Linked DNA regions of Homo sapiens. The protein of the gene in region 5 interacts with the protein of the main gene of each other region in a biochemical or structural test. Each region holds a gene or a part of one and is shown on either strand. Other genes may lie near its edges.

Region 1 (3,770 bases), on a different chromosome or scaffold from region 5:
TGGAGTTCTTAACTCTGACACTTGTCCACTCTGAGTCTCCAGTAATTTGTCAACTACAGGTCAGGTTTTCCTACTACCCTCGCACTGGTTCCTGAAGAGGTTTCTGCACCAGTTAAGTTGTGATTCTCTCTATCTGCCTATCTCCAATTATGGGGGCAGAGATTTGCCCTGTGACCTCGATTCTCTGCTATATACAAGAAAAGTTGTTTTCTCAGGTTGTTCAGTTTTTAATTTGTTATTAGCGTGAAGTGGTAACCTTAAGCTTCTTACATGGCATATTATTATTTTGAGACAGAGTTTCATTCTGTCAGCTGGAGTGCAATGTGGCATGTTCATGGCTCACTGCAGCTTTGACCTCCTAAGCTCAATTGATCCTCCCACCTCAGCCTCCTTAGCTGGGACTATAGGCGTGCACTACCATGCCTGGATAATTTTTTTTTTTTTTTTTCTGGTAGAGACAGGATTTTGCCATGTTGCTCAGGCTGGTCTCGAGCTCCTGGGCTCTGCCCGTTTCAGCATCCCAAAGTGCTGGGATTACAGGTGTGAGCAACCATGCCCAGCCACATACCAGATTCTTGTAGGATTTTTAGTATGAGTTTTTGTCTTGAGGGGCAAAGGAAATTTAAGACTACCATTCCTAGATTTCCTACCTGTTAAAAGTTTGAGAATCACTATTCTAGCAAAATTATATGCAACAAGCACTATAAAGAAGTTGTGACAATTTATAAATTAATTTTAATTTAAAATCTCAGTGTGTACAGATCAATAGTACACACGGAGCAGCTCATGTTTTAGCACACTAGAAGGCAGAAAGGGAGTCGTTTTTTGTTTTCCAAAATCAGATTATGAAGAACAAAATTACTTTAAAATTAGTAATTCAAAATTTGGCATACGTATCACTCTACTTTTTTTTTCCACCTCACAAAATCTTTCTTTTTTTTTTTTAAGTTCCGGGGTACATGTGCAGGATGTGCAGGTTTGTTACATAGGTGAACATGTGCCATGGTGGTTTGCTACACGTATCAACCCATCACCTAGGTATTAAGTCCAGTATGCATTAGCCATTTTTCCTAATGCTCTCCCTACTTCCACCCCACTCTACTTTTTATTTGAAGGTACAGAGTTTCAAGTAGTTCTAAAATGCACAAATGAGTTACCCATGGAACATTTTCTAACTCCTACCTCAAAAACCAGATTATTCCAAAGTATTCGTTATACCTTTGCAGTATGTTTGAAATATTTCATAATAAATGTAACTGCATGAGGTTAAAGGATTTCATACCATTTGATGTTTTAAAACAGGCATTTCAAAAGGAGGTCCTTTTGCTTACAGCTCCAAACTCACTGGACATTTACAGCTTAGAGTATGGTTAAAGTATGGAGACTAAAATGCTTGTTCCTATTAATATATACTTACTTAGGAAAACCAGTCAACTTTTCCTTTAGATATGTAGATGTGATTTGACTACAATGAAGAAAAGTATTTCAAGAAATACTAAATTTGTTCTTTGAATAAGGGAGTGCTAAACAGCTATTACTTTTCTACAGAATCAAAATTTAGTAAAATTAATTTTTCTCATTGCATTATAATTGGGCTAAAAATTAATCAACAAAATATGGCTCATTTAAAATTTGCCTGGGTTTTTCTTTCTTTATATAGAAGTAGGGGAATATTTAAATGTTTATTTGAATATGTGTATGTTCAGCAAATGCTAAAAATTTTATCTTTCTGAGTGACATGAACAAATGACTGCCTGTTGGAAGATGCACTAAACAAAAGCGAGCCTATAGTCTGGTGTTTGCAACTGTCTGAACCATTCAGGAAGAAATCTGGCTGAAACTTCTAGTGAGTTTAATTCATGTCTACCCAGAAAGGCAGCTGCTTGGAGATAAGGCTTTAATGTTTCTCTTGTCCAAGTTTGAATTCACTTTTATCAAAACTAAAAAAATTCTATGGTAGCACACAGTTGTTTTAATATTTTTAAAATTAACCTAGGCTTTTTTTCTCAAATGAAAAATTTTAGCCCATTCATAATGTTCTCTTTTGAAAATAAAATTTCATTCTTCTAGGAAAACAAATTGGAAATAGGAGGTTTTAAAAAGGTCATGCTATACAAACTAGTCATTTCATGTACACAAAGAGTCTAAGGTAATAATTTGAAAATGTTGTTAAAGATTTATGTGAGAAATATGCTTTGTATGTTCATAGGGTGCAATATTTTGCAGACTCTAAAGTCATGCTTTAGTGAATATCTAAAGACCAGGAAAACGTTCATGGTATATGTTGCAGAAAAGCATTGAATAATTAACCATAAAGTGTGGTCCGAATTTTGGAAAATAAAAATCCACATGTGGACATCTGAAACAAAATACATCAAAATAATGGGTTGTATTATTTCTGCTACCAAACTTTCTATACTTTTCAGATTTTCCATGAGGATGTATTTTCATTTAGGTCAAGAAAAATGTACTTTTACTCACTGATGACTATATACCTCCTCTCTTAGAATTGCTCACACAAACCACAACCAAACTGAATAAACTTTGGTCTCAAACGTACTTTTTCTATTCTATATTATTTACCTTCAGCATATATCACAAGGCAGGAAAAATAAATTGTTGCCTACTTCCCCTTCAAAAGTGTTTATGTCTTAACTCTTAGATTGATTCCAGGTCACTTGGGAATGATTTCAACATAGTGTGTACGTGTGTGTGTGTGTGTGTGTGTGTTTGTATGTATGTATGTACATACGTACATACATGTGTTTAAGGGCTGGTAATGTCTCCCTTTAGAATAATTTATTGTTTTTAAAACTCTCTCAAATACATATGTACACACACACACACACACACACTTATTTTGCCTAAGTTACACTTCTTTTTCATCTATATAAGAATATAGATACTTGTGCTTCTAAGCAAAGAGCATTACCTATTACATAAGGTTCTCAGATAACTGACATGGCAGGCTCACTCATTAAGGGAAATTCCTCCCTTCCATTATACATGGTAGTGGCAAAAGCTTAGCCAGCAGATGGTTATGGTTCTCTTGATCATAAAGAAATGTTCCCTAGTTTCAATGAGGTAGACTGGTCTATAAGGAAAATAGACCAGAAGATCCATGTTTTGATACTAGAAATAATGCATGTAACATTCAAAGAAGGATCTTGAGGGCAGGAACCAAGACATCTAAAAATTTAAAAGAGAACCCACAGGGTTCGGCCTATAGTAGAAACTGAAGAAATATTTAAAGAATGAATTACATTTTTATTAAGCAATTCTATTTTTCCATTGTCTTGAAGTACAAAGTGTTGGTGTGGCAAAAGCCTTTGATATCAAAAAAATTGTGGAAATGATTATGCTCCCCTGATATTCTATAAATAGTTCACTCCTTTTTCATGGATATTTACAATATTAATTGGCAGAAGTAGGAATTATCTTGTGGGTACATGCTACTGTATGGCATTTTTGACCCAGCAACCATGTCCTAGTCATGCTGTGTTCCTGGGCTCCTAATTCAGTGGTGTTTACCTCATGAACCAAAGAATGCCCCAAATGAATAGTATACCTTAGAAATCCTTTCAGCACAAGGCTTACAGTGTCTCATTCTTTCAAATATGATCTTATAATTTGCAAAGTTCATTTATAAGAAATTTATATATTAAAATATTCCTAAGAACAATTATACTAGGTAATTTCACAGTAGGTATTCAGGGTCTTAGAATAAAGTGGGACCTTGAAAATAAGTAACTTAAATTTTAGCTGAGTAT
Region 2 (3,770 bases), on a different chromosome or scaffold from region 5:
AGCCCCAGTGTCCTGCTGGGCCCCCACCCCATGCACTCACACCACCCAGGCAGGGCAGGTCTGGGGTGACTCACCGCGCCCCACGGAGGGCAAGGCCAGCGTGGCCACGGCAGTCATTTGGTCATTCTGCAAGCCCTTGGCTGGAGGGAGGCCGGCTGACAGCACACACAGATGCCCCTCTGAGCTTTCACAGGGACCAAGTCATTTCCAAGGGTCCCGGCCCCTGGGTAGGAGCCACCAAGAAGCGGTGTGGCTTAATGGTTAAGAGCATGCACCTTGTAGACACAAAAGGCCACATATTGCAGGATTCCATTTATATGAAATGCCCAGAACAGGCAAATCCACAGAGACAGAAAGCAGATTAGTTGTTGCCAGGGGCTGGGAGTGGGGAGTGGTGACTGCTAATGGGTACAGAGTCCTTTTTTGGGGTGATGAAAATGTTCTGGAATGAGATAGTGCTGATGTCTGTACAACTCTGAATACACTAAGAAACCAACTGAATTGTACGTTTTAAAAGACTGAGTTATGAGTATGTGAATTACATCTAAATGACCCTTCCAGGCTTAGTGACCTCAGGCAGGTCACTTCCCTCCCAGAACCTCAGTTTCCTTGTTGCAACATGGGAATGTCATGGAGATTAAGCACACATAAAGGGTTTCTTTTTTTTCTTTCTTGTGTGTGTGTGTGTGTGTGCGCATGTGTGTGTGACAGAGAGAGACAGGATCTTGCTCTGTCACCCAGGCTAGAGTATAAGTGGCACAATCTTGGCTCACTGCAACCTCCGTCTCCCAGGTTCAAGCAATCCTCCTGCCTCAGCCTCCCAAGTAGCTGGGATTACAGGTGCCCACCGCTGCGCCAGCTAATTTTTGTATTTTTAGTAGAGACGGGGTTTCACCATGTTGGCCAGGCTGGTCTCGAACTCCTGACCTCAGGTGATCCGACCGCCTCGGCCTCTCAAAATGCTGGGATTACAGGCGTCGGCCACCGTGCCCAGCCACATAAAGGGTTTCAAACAAGGTCTGGCACGTAGTAGGAGCTCAAGGATACAAAGTCACTACCCCAGGAGGCTCCAGGTCCTTCTTCCCTTATCTCGCTTCCTTCCCATCAGAGCATAGCCCCAGGATTCCACCCTCTCAGCCAGCCCTGCTTGAGAACATGCTACTCAGCTCCAGCCCAGGAGGAGGGAGGCATCAAATTCTTAGTCCGGCCGGGCGCAGTGGCTCACGCCTGTAATCCCAGCACTTTGGGAGACCGAGGTGGGCGGATCACTTGAGGTCAGAAGTTCAAGACCAGACTGGCCAACATGGTGAAACCCCATCTCTACCAAAAATACAAAAATTAGCCGGGTGTGGTAGCATGCACCTGTAATCCCAGCTACTCGGGAGGCTGAGGCATGAGAATCTCTTGAACCCAGGAGGCAGAGATTGCAGTGAGCAGAGATAGCACCACTGCACTCCAGCGGGGGCGACAAGAGCGAGACTCCATCTCAACAAAACAAAACCTTAGGCCCGCCTTCTCTCTGGCCTAGCCCCTCTCCTAGAGGATGGTCACAGCCACGGAGAACTCCAGAGAGGATTCTATAGTCTGAGAACGTTGCCTGATCAATGCTTTACATCTCATCTGCCACTCACTGGCTGTATGGTCTTGCACAAGTCACATCTCATCTCTGGGCCTTGGTTTCCTTATCTGTAAAATGGGAGTAATAATTACTACGACCTGGGTGGGGTTAAGCCGTATTTGCTCCATAGTTATTTGGTGTATAGCACATTCATGCTTTAAACTAAAAAATAAGGCTGGGTGCAGTGGCTCACACCTGTAATCCCAACACTTTGGGAGGCCAAGGTGGGAGGATCGCTTGAGCCCAGGAGTTCGAGACCAGCCTGGGCAAAATGGTGAGATCCCATCTCTACAAAAAATAAATAAATTTATTTATTTTTTAAAATATTAAAAAATAAAATAACAGCTCCTACCCCAAAGAGCTATTGTGAGGATTAAATGTGATAATTCAAGCCTTCAGTGCAGTGCCCAACAAACACCAAGTGTTCAATGAACTTGAACTTATTTTTTAGTTTAAAGCATGAATGTACTGTATACCAAATAACTATGGAGCAAATACAGCTTAACCCCACCCAGGTCGTAGCAATTATTACCCCCATTTTACAGATAAGGATGTTCAATGGCTGCTTTGCCATTCTTGCTAACATTCCCTCAGTTTGCAGTGGGAGGTGGGGGATGATGACATTGAGGTCCAGGGAGGTCAGAACTGGGCAGGCACTGGAACCCAGACTTCCCGGCTCCAAAACCAGGGCTCGTGACTGCAGAGACCTCACCTTTGGAAAGGGTTTCCTCGCCACCTCATTTCCATCTTCTGTCACCTTTAGAAGGCTGTCAGGACAAGGGCTGCCTCCCAGCTGGGAGACTAAGGACCAGAAGGGACAGGACACTCGTCCATGCATACGTTCCTCTACCCCACTTCTAGGAGCAAAAGTCCCGAGTTTGCCAAATCAGAGGAGGGGGAAGAGGGCAGGTGCCCGTTATGAGTGGATGGGGCAGGAGTCGGGGAAGGGAGCCCAAGGCAGCAGAAAACCAGTTTGAGATCCTTCCTCTGTCCCAGCCCACCTCAACACCAGTCTGTGCCAACAGTAAGCTGCTGCCTCAGGGGTTAACTGCTTGGAATTATGACTGAGGCTAATGCCTGCAATGTACCATCAGTAATGCCTACCCTCCATGGCACACTTCACACAGCACCTCCCATTTGGTTGTTTTTTGTTTTGAGACAGGGTATGGCTTTGTCACCCAGGCTGGAGTGCAGTGGCACAATCATAGCTCACTGCAGCCTCGACCTCCCAGGCTCAAGCAATCCTCCCACCTCAGCCTCCCCAGAAGCTGGGACCACAGGCATGTACCACCATTCCTACTTTTAAAATTTATTTTTTGTAGAGATGGAGTCTCACTCTACTGCCCAGGTTAGTCTCCAATGCCCGGGCTCACGTGATCCACACACCTTGGCCTCCCAAAGTGTTGTGATTACAGGCGTGAACCACCATGGCTGGCCCCTTCTATCTATTTTAATCCAAATAATAACTATAGACATTAAATATTATTGTCTCCATTCCCAGATGTATAAAGTCAGTCCCGGGGGAAAGGAGGTAAGGGCTGACATTTATCCAATACCTATCATATGCTAAGCACTTTCACATTTCTCTCTCATTTGAGGTCGGTGTTATTGTTATCATTTCACAGATGAACAAACTGAAGATCAGAAAGAATGAGATTTAACTGAGTCCACAACGCTACAGGAAGTGAATGTGGCTAGACTTCCAACCATCTGCTTTTAAATCCATTTGAGTTCATTCATCCCTTTGGGGGCTACCATGCCCTCTCCCTAGGACCCCCCTTCTCAACGCCATATCCCTTGGAACTCAGCAGGACAAGATGGCACAGTGGTGACAGGCTTGGAGTCTGAATCTTGACTTTGCCATTTAGTAACTGCGTGGCCCCAGACGGATCACTTGACCTCTCCGAGCTTCAGTTTCCTCACCTGTAAAAGGGAGCTCATCACAGTTCCCACTGCTGGATTACTTGTCATTGTGGGTATCAGAGTCTCACAAAGTGGCCTCAAAGCACTGCGTGTGGAATGATGTCACTCGGACAAAAGCTCTAGGGCGGAGGGACTCCCTTCTGGTAACTGCTGAGGCCCAGATGCCTGGAACAGGTCCTGGCACATAGCAGCTGCTCAAGATGTATTTGCTGGATGAATGAATGAATGA
Region 3 (3,770 bases), on a different chromosome or scaffold from region 5:
ATGGTCTCATTCTAGTCTAAGTCCCTTCTACTTTATGCCTGAATCATCCCAATAGCATCTAAACTGGAATCCCTTGATCCTTCCAGTTGCCCTGTAGATTGATTTCAGTAAGTGGTCCAAATAATTACTTCCACCATGCCACATAGTTGAGACACTACAGTGTAGGTTTCATTTGCTAGACTTATCAGGTTCTCCACAATCAGGCCCTACTCATCTTACCTAATTTTTTAACTCACTATTCTATGTTACAATTAAGCTCTTCATGATTCTTCATGATTCTATGCTACAATTAAGCTCTTCATGGGCCTATACTGTGCCCATTCCTACCTCCCAACCTCATCTCAAAATATTTCCCCTTGCTGTATATGCCTTCTCCCTGACCAAAACTTGAAGGCCCAGCTCAAATGCCACTTGCTTCATGACAGCTTTCCCAATTGTGCCAGTCCACGGTGATCTCTTGCTTTGTTGCACTCTTACCACACTTATAGTCAGTACCACAAGCCAGTACTTATGGGTTTTGACATTATTTCAAGTGTCATTTCCCCCTTTCCCTATGGTTATATAAAGAGTTCTGGCCAGGCGCGGTGGCTCACACCTGTAATCCCAGCACTTTGGTAGGCCGAGGCAGGCGGATCACGAGGTCAGGAGTTCGAGACCAGCCTGGCCAACATGGTGAAACCCCGTCTCTACTAAAAATACAAACATTAGCCAGGTGTGGTGGCAGGCGCCTGTAATCCCAGCTACTCGGGAGGCAGAGGCAGGAGAATTGCTTGAACACAGGAGGCAGAGGTTGCAGTGAGCCGAGATCGCGCCACTGCACTCCAGCCTGGGTGACAGAGCAAGATTCCGTCTTGAGGGGAAAAAAAAAGAGTTCTGGCTGGCTGCAGGGGCTCATGCCTGTAATTGCAGTACTTAGGGAGGCTGAGGCAGGAAGACCCCTTGAGCCCAGGAGTTTGAGACCAGGCTAAGCAACATAGTGAGACCCTGTCTCTACAAAAAAAAATTTTAAAAATTAGCCAGGCACGGTGGCATGCACTTGTAGTCCCATCTGCTTGGCAGGCTGAGGCAGGAGAATCACTTGAGCCTGAGCCATGATTGTACCACTGGACCCCAGCCTGGGTGACAGAGTGAGACCCTGTCTCATTAAAAAAAAAGAAAAAAAAAACTCAAAACAGTTCTGAGGCAAGGAATTATTCCTATAAATATGTCCCCCAGACCTCTTAACATAGTGGTGTGCACATAGTGAACAATTAATGTTTGCTACAAACCTATTCCAGTTGCCTGCTTGATCTCTTCTAAACTGAACTCCTCTCCCTCATTAAACATTAGCAGCACCAGTGTTTGAAAAAGAGAGACCTGGAGTTCCTTTTTACCCTGTTGAAGAAATAAAAGTGTTTAGTCATCACTTTTTTAAAAACACATGAAAAATTAATCATCTCTTATAGGAAAAGCATTTTTCAATTAGTGGATTTAGAAACATGATTAGCATTATCCAGCAAAGCCACTTGACGTGGTAATACAGTATTTCAGTGTGAGGTTTAGGTGTGACCCTACCTAAAATAGGGGGAAGGATTAGCTGACCTTTTAACAGTTTTTTTTTAAGCCTTATAAATAGAATACAGTAATGAAAATTAATCAGCCTTATGTGTCATTCTAGATATTCATCACAAGCAGCAAGAAATCACTATTTCAAATGTATTTTTGATTTGTTTGGCTCAGATTAGTCATGAAAAGCTAAAGTTTTTTGAGATTAGATATTGCACACTGTTTCCCTTAACTCCCACTCTATTCGTAGCTCCCAGCAACAAGATTTCTGTCAAGAAGTGGCAGTGTTAGACTAAGTGTAGTTGCTCATGCCTGTAATCCCAGCACTTTAGGAAGCGGAGGCAGGGGGATAGCTTGAGCCCATGAGTTTGAGGTTACAGTGAACTATGATTGTGCCACTGTACTCCTGCCTGGGTGACAGAGTGGGACCCTATCTCTAAAAATAAACAAATAAATAAAAATAGGAAGTGGCAGTGTACAGTTTTCATCCACAGGTGAGGAAAGGGTAGGGGGAAAGTTCACTGCTTTTCATTTTGCAGAAGGGCCAAATCAATCGTGGAAAGACCACACACCTAAAATTACTTAAAAATACATAAAGCTATGACAAACTATCACTGTCATCATGCGGATATCTAGGATACAATTATAAAACAACAGCTTAAACTGGCCAGATGCGGTGGTTCACACCTGTAATCCCAGCACTTTAGGAGGCCGAGGCGCGTGGATCACAAGGTCAAGAGACAGAGACCATCCTGGCCAACATGGTGAAACCCCGTCTCCACTAAAAATACAAAAAAAATTAGCTGGGTATGGTGGCGCACGCCTGTAGTCCCAGCCACTCGGGAGGCTGAGGCAGGAGAATCACCTGAACCCAGGAGGCAGAGGTTGCGGTGAGCCAAGATAGCGCCACTGCACTCCACTCTGGTGACAGAGTGAGACTCTGTCTCAAAAAAAAAAAAAAAAAAAAAAAAGAAGAAAACAAAAAACAATAGCCTAAACTTTCAGTTAAGAAGGATGACCTAAACATTAAAGATAAAGATGAAAACTAAAAGTTTTGGGAACATCCACTTACCTCTTTAAATTCTGCTTTTAACACACAGTGTCCTAGGGTTGACTGCCACTGAAGTTTCCTGCCACTATGTTTGCCTAGGTAAAATGTCTTGAAAATCTCCTGAAGTTTTACCATCTAAAGTAAATAAAATAAGGCTTTATTTAAGCTCTGTATCCAATACCACATTTACCATTTTTATACTTACCTCATGTGATATAGTTTCTGGAAAATTTTAAGACTATATCCAGTAGGTCCACCAATCACTTTGATGAAAAACAATGATCTCCCAACCACCAAATCAAATGGGATTTATTAGGATTTATACCTTTTGCTCTCTCTGAACATTTAATCATCCCCTCTTTTGAAACATTCACCTGCAGCAGCTTTTGTGCCTCTGCACTATGCTGCTTCCTTTATTTCACTGTTGCTTCTGCATTGGTTTCCTTCACAGGTTCCTCTTTCTACCATCTGCCAAATGTGAGCCTTTTCTAAAGTTCTGCCTCTGCTGTTTTTTCTTCCTCTTTGAGAGAAATCTACTCCCTGGGCCTTCATAATCATCTCCATGGAGGATTCTCAATATCTATCTGTCTAGCCTTAATCCCTTTTATGGGCTTCAGTCCTGGACTAGACAGTTTACCAGGAGTCAGGATAGATTTAATCAAGGACCCATCATTTAGCAATCCCACCTATGGGTGAAATATGTGCAAGAATTCTTAATAGCTAGGTAGAGTGAGGGGTATAACCTGGGAAGATGGAAGAAGAGCCAGGGAAATTGACCCTGAACCCAGAAATTTGGCATTATTAGCTATGTGCTTAACTGGACTTCTAAGTACAAAAGTAAAACATTAAAGCAGTTGGTATTTGGTGTTGGTGCGCTTACTGACATACACTTTTAAAAGTATCCATGCCAAGCCTGGTGACTTACACCTGTAATCCCAGCACTTCGGAAGGCTGAGGCGGGGGGGATCACTTGAGCCCAAGAGTTCAAGACCAGCCTGAGCAATACAGCGAGACCCTGGGTCTCTATTTTTTTCTAAGTATCTATTTTTAAATGACAAGCAAAATGGAAATGCTATGATTTCTATGCCTATAACTCAGTTCTAAACAGTAACTCTTACCTCTGGTGGTAAATGAACTTCCATAGGCACATATGTCGGCCAATAGCCCATTGTCA
Region 4 (3,770 bases), on a different chromosome or scaffold from region 5:
GGTACATCTGTGAATGCTGTTCAGAATATGTGATCAGTTCCTTACCCCATTGAAACATTCGAGCCTAGATTTTTCAGATTTTCTTGTCAGTTTTCTTCCTTATTCTCATTTCTTTATCTGCTTTGGCCTTTGATTTTTATCTCATCTAGAAAAACATACATGCACTTTATTAATAACATCTCTTTTTAAGTCACGACCTAGCTACCTTTAAACCTATTTCCTCTAGTTCTGTCTGGTTGGCTTTCTAAGGAGAGGCATTGTAACCCTTAAACGTGTGCTGTTTTTTTTTTTAATTGATGTGTAATAGATATACATGTGCTCTTTTCTTGTGTTTCTACCACTAGAGTTTAAGCTCTCTGAGGGGAGGACTACACTGCTTTCTTTTAAATTCCTCTCAATGAATAATCCAAAGAGTTCTTAGAAATTTGGTAGTTTTTCATTTTGTTAGTTATTTCAACACACATTGGATTATATGTGTTACATTTTTGTGAGGTAGCTTAAGAATAAAAAATAAGAATGGCTTATGAGCCTTTACTCTAACCAGCACTATATGGGCATTTTATGTTCATTATCTTATTTGATAGCTATTAATGTCTCTTTTTAACACTGAGAAAACAGATTCAGGTAAGTTATAATGTGGAAATGTAGAAAAATCACCTACTTTCTCTTTAGAAGCTCAGATGTGTATGTAAGGCTTGCTAAAAGCAGACCCCACCGTATATTTTATATGTATAGAGCTTGGGTAATTCCTGACATATAATAATGGAGTCTTCATCTGAAATTTCTAACAAATTATTAAATTCAAAGCTTATTATTTTCGAATCGAGCATGTTCTTTGCCTTGAAAACAAAACATAGCTGAAAGCCAGTGCTTCTAAAGGCCACAGCTGTCATTTTCAACCCTTTCTGTCTTTGCACTGCCTTTATTTAAAAAAAAATGGATTAGCAGTAGGTAGTCTTCTTTTTCTTTTCTTTCTTTCTTTTTTGATTCTTCTCCTAGGATATCTGCTCTAGCCACTGGGAAATAACTTCTCAGTATTTTGACCCTGACTAGAAAGATGTCCCTTGGGGAAGGAATTGGGATAGAGGGGCTAGGCTGTTTCCTAGATCCTCTATTTTCAGCATTTATTATCTGATTTAGGATTTTGTTTCTTTGAAGAAAATCCTATTTTGTGAGTACCTTTAGAATTATTTTTCATAGCTGTTTATCTGCACTAGTGGTTTCTCTTTAAACAGAAAAACACTTTTTTTCTTAAAAAAAGAAATAGTACCCAATTTTTAAAAAAGTAATACATACTTGAAGAAAATTTAAAAAGATAGGAAAATGAGGATATAATAATGTTATTACCCAGAGACAGAACCAGTGTTAACCATTTGGTGTAACCTTTCTGTTCGGGTTTGTTTGTTCTTTAGGGGATATTTTACAGAAATAAAATATTGTGCAGCCTCGTCCCTCCAGCCCCCATTGCTCTTAAATAAATCTTTTCATGACATTAAATCTCTTCTTTTGATGGCCACGTAATCTTGTACCATCTATCTCCTTCCCTCCCCTGCCTTTTTTTTTTTTTTTTTTTTTGAGACGGAGTTTCGCTCTTGTCGCCCAGGCTGGAGTGTAGTGGCGCAGTTTCGGCTCACTGCAACCTCCACCTCCTGGGTTCAAGTGATTATCCTGCCTCAGCCTCCCGAGTAGCTGGGATTACAGTCATACACCACCCCGGCTAATTTTTTTGTATTTTTAGTAGAAACGGGGTTTCACCACATTGGCCACGCTGGTCTCGAACTCCTGACTTCAGGTGATCTGCCTGCCTTGGCCTCCCAAAGTGCTGGGATTACACACGTAAGCCAGTGCACCTGGCCAGTCTCCTTATTTTTTAAACCATTCCCATATTGTTGGATATTTAGATTTGCTTCCATTTTTTCACTAAGCAATCTCTGCGTTTATCAACAAATGCTTCCCAGTCCTGACTTGCTGCATCCAGTGGCTTAGAACAGATTGACAGCCATCATCATCATATAGGTGTGCTGGAGAGCTCCTGTTCTCAAGCACGTCAGTCTCTTCCTGAAATATGCCCAGCACAAGGAAAATCTCTTGGCTTACTGCAGGGTTGGGCCTTTTGTGGCCTCTAATGAGTTTGCCTGCGCCAGTATCTTGATGCTTCTGCAGTGGTGCCAGGCCTGACGATGAGACTATAGTCTTTCAAAAACTTTTTAGGAGACAAATAAAGAGTATCTTGCTGACTTTTTTTTTAGTGGGAACCTCATTCAAAGTCTTGGAACAACAGTAGGTCTTGATTAAAAACCATCATGGCATATCACTAGAAAATTCAATTAGAAACTAATGGATAAACTTCAGTTACATTTAACATATATGTCCATTTTAACATAACATACTAACTATCTGTACAAGATTAATCTAGACTTTTGCTTTTCCTTCTCACAAAATTGTATATTTAAAAAGAAAATTCAAGCTTATGGTTTTATGGGCTGCTACAGTGTAATAGTCGTGGAGAAGAATAATAGTACTTCAGTTTGATTTTGCACTATGCATTTTTCAAGGAAGATTTCCACATTTAGTATTCTTTAATTCCCTGCGCCTCATCTTCACAGCAACTCTACTGAGGTAGATGCCATCTTCATTTTATGGATTGGAAGGCTGAGATTTAACATGCTCACATGGCTGTATAGTGGCACATTGCGCTGTGACACACAGTCCTGCTGCCTTCCGACTATACTACATATAGGTACTCTGTGTTCCTTGTGCTCTCCCAATAATGATTTGTAGAAAAACTTGATATTCATTTGCATATGAGTTTTGTGCTTAGCACAGTTATAAGCATTAAATGTGAAACAAACATGAAGCTTTCCTTTGAGGGCACACACGTGAAGCTGTAAGTGGTACAGTACTCATCTGTATCACAGAATGGCATAAAGAAGTCCTAGACCATGTAATAGGCTATAAGTATATTCAGAGTCATAGGCAAGGTAAATCAGTGAGGGCTAGGGCAGTCAGGGAAGGGTTTGTAGCCCTAGAAGAATGGGTGGAGTTCAGATAGGCAGGCAGTAAATAGGAGAGCACTCTAGATGAAGGGAACTACAAAAGCAGTTTCAGACACGTTTGAGCATTGTGTTTATAGGGCATGTGGTGCTGGCCAGCCTGAGAGAAAGGTACATGTTGGAGAACAGTGGATGAGAAAGCCAAACAAGTAAAGAGGAGACAATTTATCAGGAATTTGAAAGCCAGGTAGAGCTTAAATTTGATGGAGTAGCCAAAAGGGAGTCATTGGAAGTTACTGAGTAAGGACAAAGGCAAGACTAGAGGTAATTTAGGAAGAGTAATTTTTTGTTTGTTTTGAGACAGGGTGTCTGTCACCCAGGCTGGAGTGCAGTGATGCAGTCATGGCTCAGTGCATCCCTGGCCTCCTAGCCTCAAGCGATTCTCCCATCTCAGCCTCCCAAGTAGCTGGGACCACAGGCATGAGCCACCACACCTGGCTAATATTTTATTTTTTGTAGAGACAAGGTCTTACTATGTTGCCCAGGCTGGTCTTGAACTCCTGGTCTCAAGCGATGCTCCAGCTTTGGCCTCCAAAAGCACTGGGATTATAGATTGATCTGCCATGCCTGACTGGAAGAGTGAATTACTCTTTGAATTTCAGAGGGCACAGAAATTCAAGAAACTAGGTACAAATGTAATGAAGATTTAATATGCTTGTGAGGCTAATAGGTGCTTTGAATTATTTGAGAAAAGGGAGAACTCTACCAACTCTGCAG
Region 5 (3,770 bases):
CCCACCTCTGCCTCCCAAAGTGCTGGGATTACAGGTGTGAGCCACTGCGCCCAGCCCCCATGTTACTATTTTTAAGAACATTTGCTAATTTAAGGAAAATCCTCAGCTAGGAAAAGATCAACAATTCCCATGCCCACATGTCTTTATTTCTTCTTGATACACCTATAATCTTTGATGCTGCTGACTAATTCCAAAGAGTATTCTGATTCCATTAAAAATTCTGGAATAGTGGAAGACATTATTATTTTCTTGTATGCCATTAGTAACAAGATGCACATTTCTGAAGAGCAGCTTTATTAGAAATGAAAGGGAAAATTTAAAAATGGAAATGTATGAGTTTGTAAAGCGCAACTTGCATATGTCAAAGAAACTAAAGTTTAACTCAGCTTAGCTGAAGTAACTTTTCTAACATACAAGCCAAGAGTTTTCTTTGTTCTTATTATTGCTTTGTCATGAAGCCTGAAGGATATTTAGGTAGATCCTATCCTACATTCAAATTAGACCACTTTATCTGTTTCTCATAGCTGTTATTTGGACTTCGTTTTTCTCTCTGCCACCTGGCCTGACCTCTATGACATTTTAAGTCTGTTTACCACCTCTTAGCTGCCTACCATGGAAAGCAAAAGACTCCAACACATCCAAGTTCCAGAGCCCTTTAGATGCCCAGTTTCCTACAGGAGGCATGTCTCCATTCTTCCTACTTTCTGAGATTCTCTCTAGTAAACTCAGTCATGTCCATTTCTTTTCCCACTCTTCCTACTTTCCAGAGAAATGTTTTTTCCTTGGCTTAGAATAGAAAAATACTTCACCACATATATTCTCATCCAAGTAATTACCAAGGTTATTAAAAATGCATGTGCTGAATGATAGAATAATTAAAAAGAAAGATAGTCCTTTTTCCCAAATGAATATTCACATTTTCTTGTTTTCCTAATACCAAATGTCCATCCATAGAGATTTGTGCCAAGGATGTTGGCAGGTTTTACATCAATTACTGGTATTTTATGAGAGAAAATGAATGAAGAAGGAGTGTGCTGGGAAAGCAATTATTCACTTTGTTTTTCTCAACTTACTCTTTTTTTCATTTTATTTCAGTCTTTGTTTCTTTTGGCTTTTCTTCCATTGACAATCTTTTTCCCTTTTATTTTTGTTTACATTCAAAAGTGTCCTACTCTGCTTCTAACTTTATTCTTTTATTAAAACTTACACTTCAAAATATGGGATCTTAAGTTTAAAATACAGTTAAAAACATGTTAAAATTGTCTCTTCGACTGGGCACAGTGGCTCACGCCTGTAATCCCAGCACTTTGGGAGGCCGAGGTGGGCAGATCACCTGAGGTTGGGAGTTCGAGACCAGCCTGACCAACATGGAGAATCCCCGTCTCTACTAAAAATACAAAAATTACCTGGGCTGGTGGCGCATGCCTGTAATCCCAGCTACTCGGGAGGCTGAGGCAGGAGAATCGCTTGAACCCAGGAAGTGGAGGTTGTGGTGAGCCAAGATCGCGCCATTGCACTCCAGCCTGGGCAACAGAGCAAGACTCCGTCTCAAAAAAAAAAAAAAAAAATTGTATCTTCATATTAGATTCAATTGTCTTAGGAATTGAAGTGAAGAAAGAAGGATGAAGAGGAAATTATCTCTTGGATTGCTCTCCAGGAAATCCTTCTCTATACTTTAAAAGCTCTTGTTCTTTTCTAGGAGTCCAATGTGCTGATTGCTGCTAACAGTCAGGGTACAATTAAGGTAAGCTATTTACTATATCTCCATTTTAAACTCAGGCCCATTTTTAGACTGAAACAGGATTATAGAAATACACCATTGTACTGAGCCTTAGAGATCATCCCAAATCATGGGTCTGTGTCTCCTTACAAATGGCTTGATTTAAGGGAAAAGAATAGGTAGCTTGCATCTGTGGAGAAGATGATAGTGCTTATTGAGGTTGTATGGATGCTGGATGGATTAATAGATGGTCAGTTTGAAAAACAGATAAAGACTAGTGAACATTCACTGTGGGCTAAGCACAGTTTAGCTTCTGTTATGCCAGTACAACTCTCCCACAGGGCTTTCAGTAGATAGAGCCCAAAATATAGCAGGAGATGCAAGATATAGCAGAAGATGCTTAGACATCACCAGATTTAAACATATCTTGGTCATATTTTATTCTCTTCCTCATGGTTCTCTTTCTTCTGTCCCCTAAGAAGTAGGTTTTTCCTCAGTTGTCAAAGGGGAGAAAAAGTTATTTTAGTGTTCAGTTGAAAATTGATAGATGTGATTCAAGGAAGCCTAGCCATAAAAAAAGGAAAGAAAATTGATTGATGCATATATAGCACTTGTACATGATACATTGGATAAATAAATCCTGAGATAAGCAGTGAACTTTCTAAACAAAACACCCTTTTGGTGGAGTACGTGTTTCTGAGAGTACCTGTTTTTTCCACATATTCTCTGCTGATTTGGTAGAAATATTGAAAGTTTTTTAACATAACGTGTGTGTTTCTCCTGCCACTTAGCATTAATTTTGCCATAGCTTCCTTAGACTCATCATAAGTGGAGAATAATCCATCAGCCAAGGCAGCAAATCCTAGCCTAAACATTCTACAGAGGTGAAATGAGCAAACTTAACGCAGAAGAACTGCACTAATTTACATGGTAGTCTCCTTTTTTAGGCAGCCAGTTTCTCTGTTTGAAAAGCCTCTTTAGAGAACCACTGAGAGCTTAAATGAAAACGAGGTTTTTTAACTGATCAGTGTTTGTTATGTTCTGGAAGCCTCAAGCAAGATGGTAGAAGGTCTTGGAATATCTGATTTAAGTGGCTTTCTATACTCTCTCAGTCTCTCTCTTACTCTCATGTCAAGTCATGAATTGAAAAGCTACACCTTACTCTTCAAAAAGTTTATCCTTTACACCAATTGGGATTGCCAGCATACCTACAAGAGCTCAAAACTACATAGGTTCTCATAGGATCCCACTGACAAATCTAAGATTTTGTTCAGCATCATTGACTTCTTATGTTAAGTAGCCTAGTTACCTAATATAAAGACAAAAGCATTATGGAAGCACATATATTAGTCAAGCCTTAGCTGAGCAGCAGGGGAAAGGTTGCACGTTTAAATATTTGCTACTTAGTGAGTGTTGTAGTGTCCATCTAATGTAATTCTTTTTGACAGTGTCTCATAACTATCCTCCTGTTCCGTGATCTTTCTTAGCCATTTGCTTCCTCTTAGTTTTAGCAATATCACAACTTACTTTTTTATGACAGTATACTACTTTAATTCTAAAAATACAAAGTATCTGGACGCTAGATGATTGGCTAGAAATGGATGAAGCAGCAGGAAAGAGCAAGACTTTAGGTCCTGTAACCTTGATCATTATAAACAGTGTTTATTGATGAAAGAAGAAAACAGATTAAAATCCTAAACAAGGATACTTAAAACTTTCATAAGAATGTGGAAAGATTCCAACATATATTCCAAAAATGTATTTGTGCTATGCATTAGCCAATTTATTTTTCCATGTGTTTTATGTAGTTTACCTTGAAGGCTTCCAAGTTAACTGTGGAGATAGCTCATCTGAAAGAGTTCATGCAGCTGTTAAGCTGCAGGTCAAAAAGGATTAATGTCCAATCCATTCAAATTCTTTGGCATTTTCCCAGTTGGGAAACGTTTTTTAAATTTGCTTTTCTATTGGTAAATATAGTAAAGAGTCATTAAATTCCTTTTATATCTTAAATGATTTTATTAAATGGATCCTTTTTTCCCCCCAATTAGGT

Evidence for each region.
Region 1: the proteins of COP1 (region 5) and MLF1 form a complex in vitro, tested with the Homo sapiens proteins (one study listed by BioGRID).
Region 2: the proteins of COP1 (region 5) and TRPV4 interact in a test that uses a peptide from one of them, tested with the Homo sapiens proteins (one large-scale study listed by BioGRID).
Region 3: the proteins of COP1 (region 5) and CUL4B form a complex in vitro, tested with the Homo sapiens proteins (one study listed by BioGRID).
Region 4: the proteins of COP1 (region 5) and YWHAB form a complex in vitro, tested with the Homo sapiens proteins (one study listed by BioGRID).

Annotation. Positions count from the first base shown.
Region 1 is NC_000003.12:158,577,466-158,581,235, reverse strand, and holds part of MLF1 (myeloid leukemia factor 1), read right to left. Parts: intron 1-3,770. UniProt on the Homo sapiens protein: Involved in lineage commitment of primary hemopoietic progenitors by restricting erythroid formation and enhancing myeloid formation.
Region 2 is NC_000012.12:109,823,269-109,827,038, forward strand, and holds part of TRPV4 (transient receptor potential cation channel subfamily V member 4), read right to left. Parts: exon of another isoform or gene 3,542-3,770; intron 1-3,541. UniProt on the Homo sapiens protein: Non-selective calcium permeant cation channel involved in osmotic sensitivity and mechanosensitivity. Activation by exposure to hypotonicity within the physiological range exhibits an outward rectification.
Region 3 is NC_000023.11:120,533,213-120,536,982, forward strand, and holds part of CUL4B (cullin-4B), read right to left. Parts: coding exon 3,715-3,770; intron 2,732-3,714; coding exon 2,618-2,731; intron 1,375-2,617; coding exon 1,269-1,374; intron 1-1,268.
Region 4 is NC_000020.11:44,892,141-44,895,910, forward strand, and holds part of YWHAB (14-3-3 protein beta/alpha), read left to right. Parts: intron 1-3,770. UniProt on the Homo sapiens protein: Adapter protein implicated in the regulation of a large spectrum of both general and specialized signaling pathways. Binds to a large number of partners, usually by recognition of a phosphoserine or phosphothreonine motif.
Region 5 is NC_000001.11:175,945,169-175,948,938, reverse strand, and holds part of COP1 (E3 ubiquitin-protein ligase COP1), read left to right. Parts: intron 1-1,699; coding exon 1,700-1,744; intron 1,745-3,768; coding exon 3,769-3,770. UniProt on the Homo sapiens protein: E3 ubiquitin-protein ligase that mediates ubiquitination and subsequent proteasomal degradation of target proteins.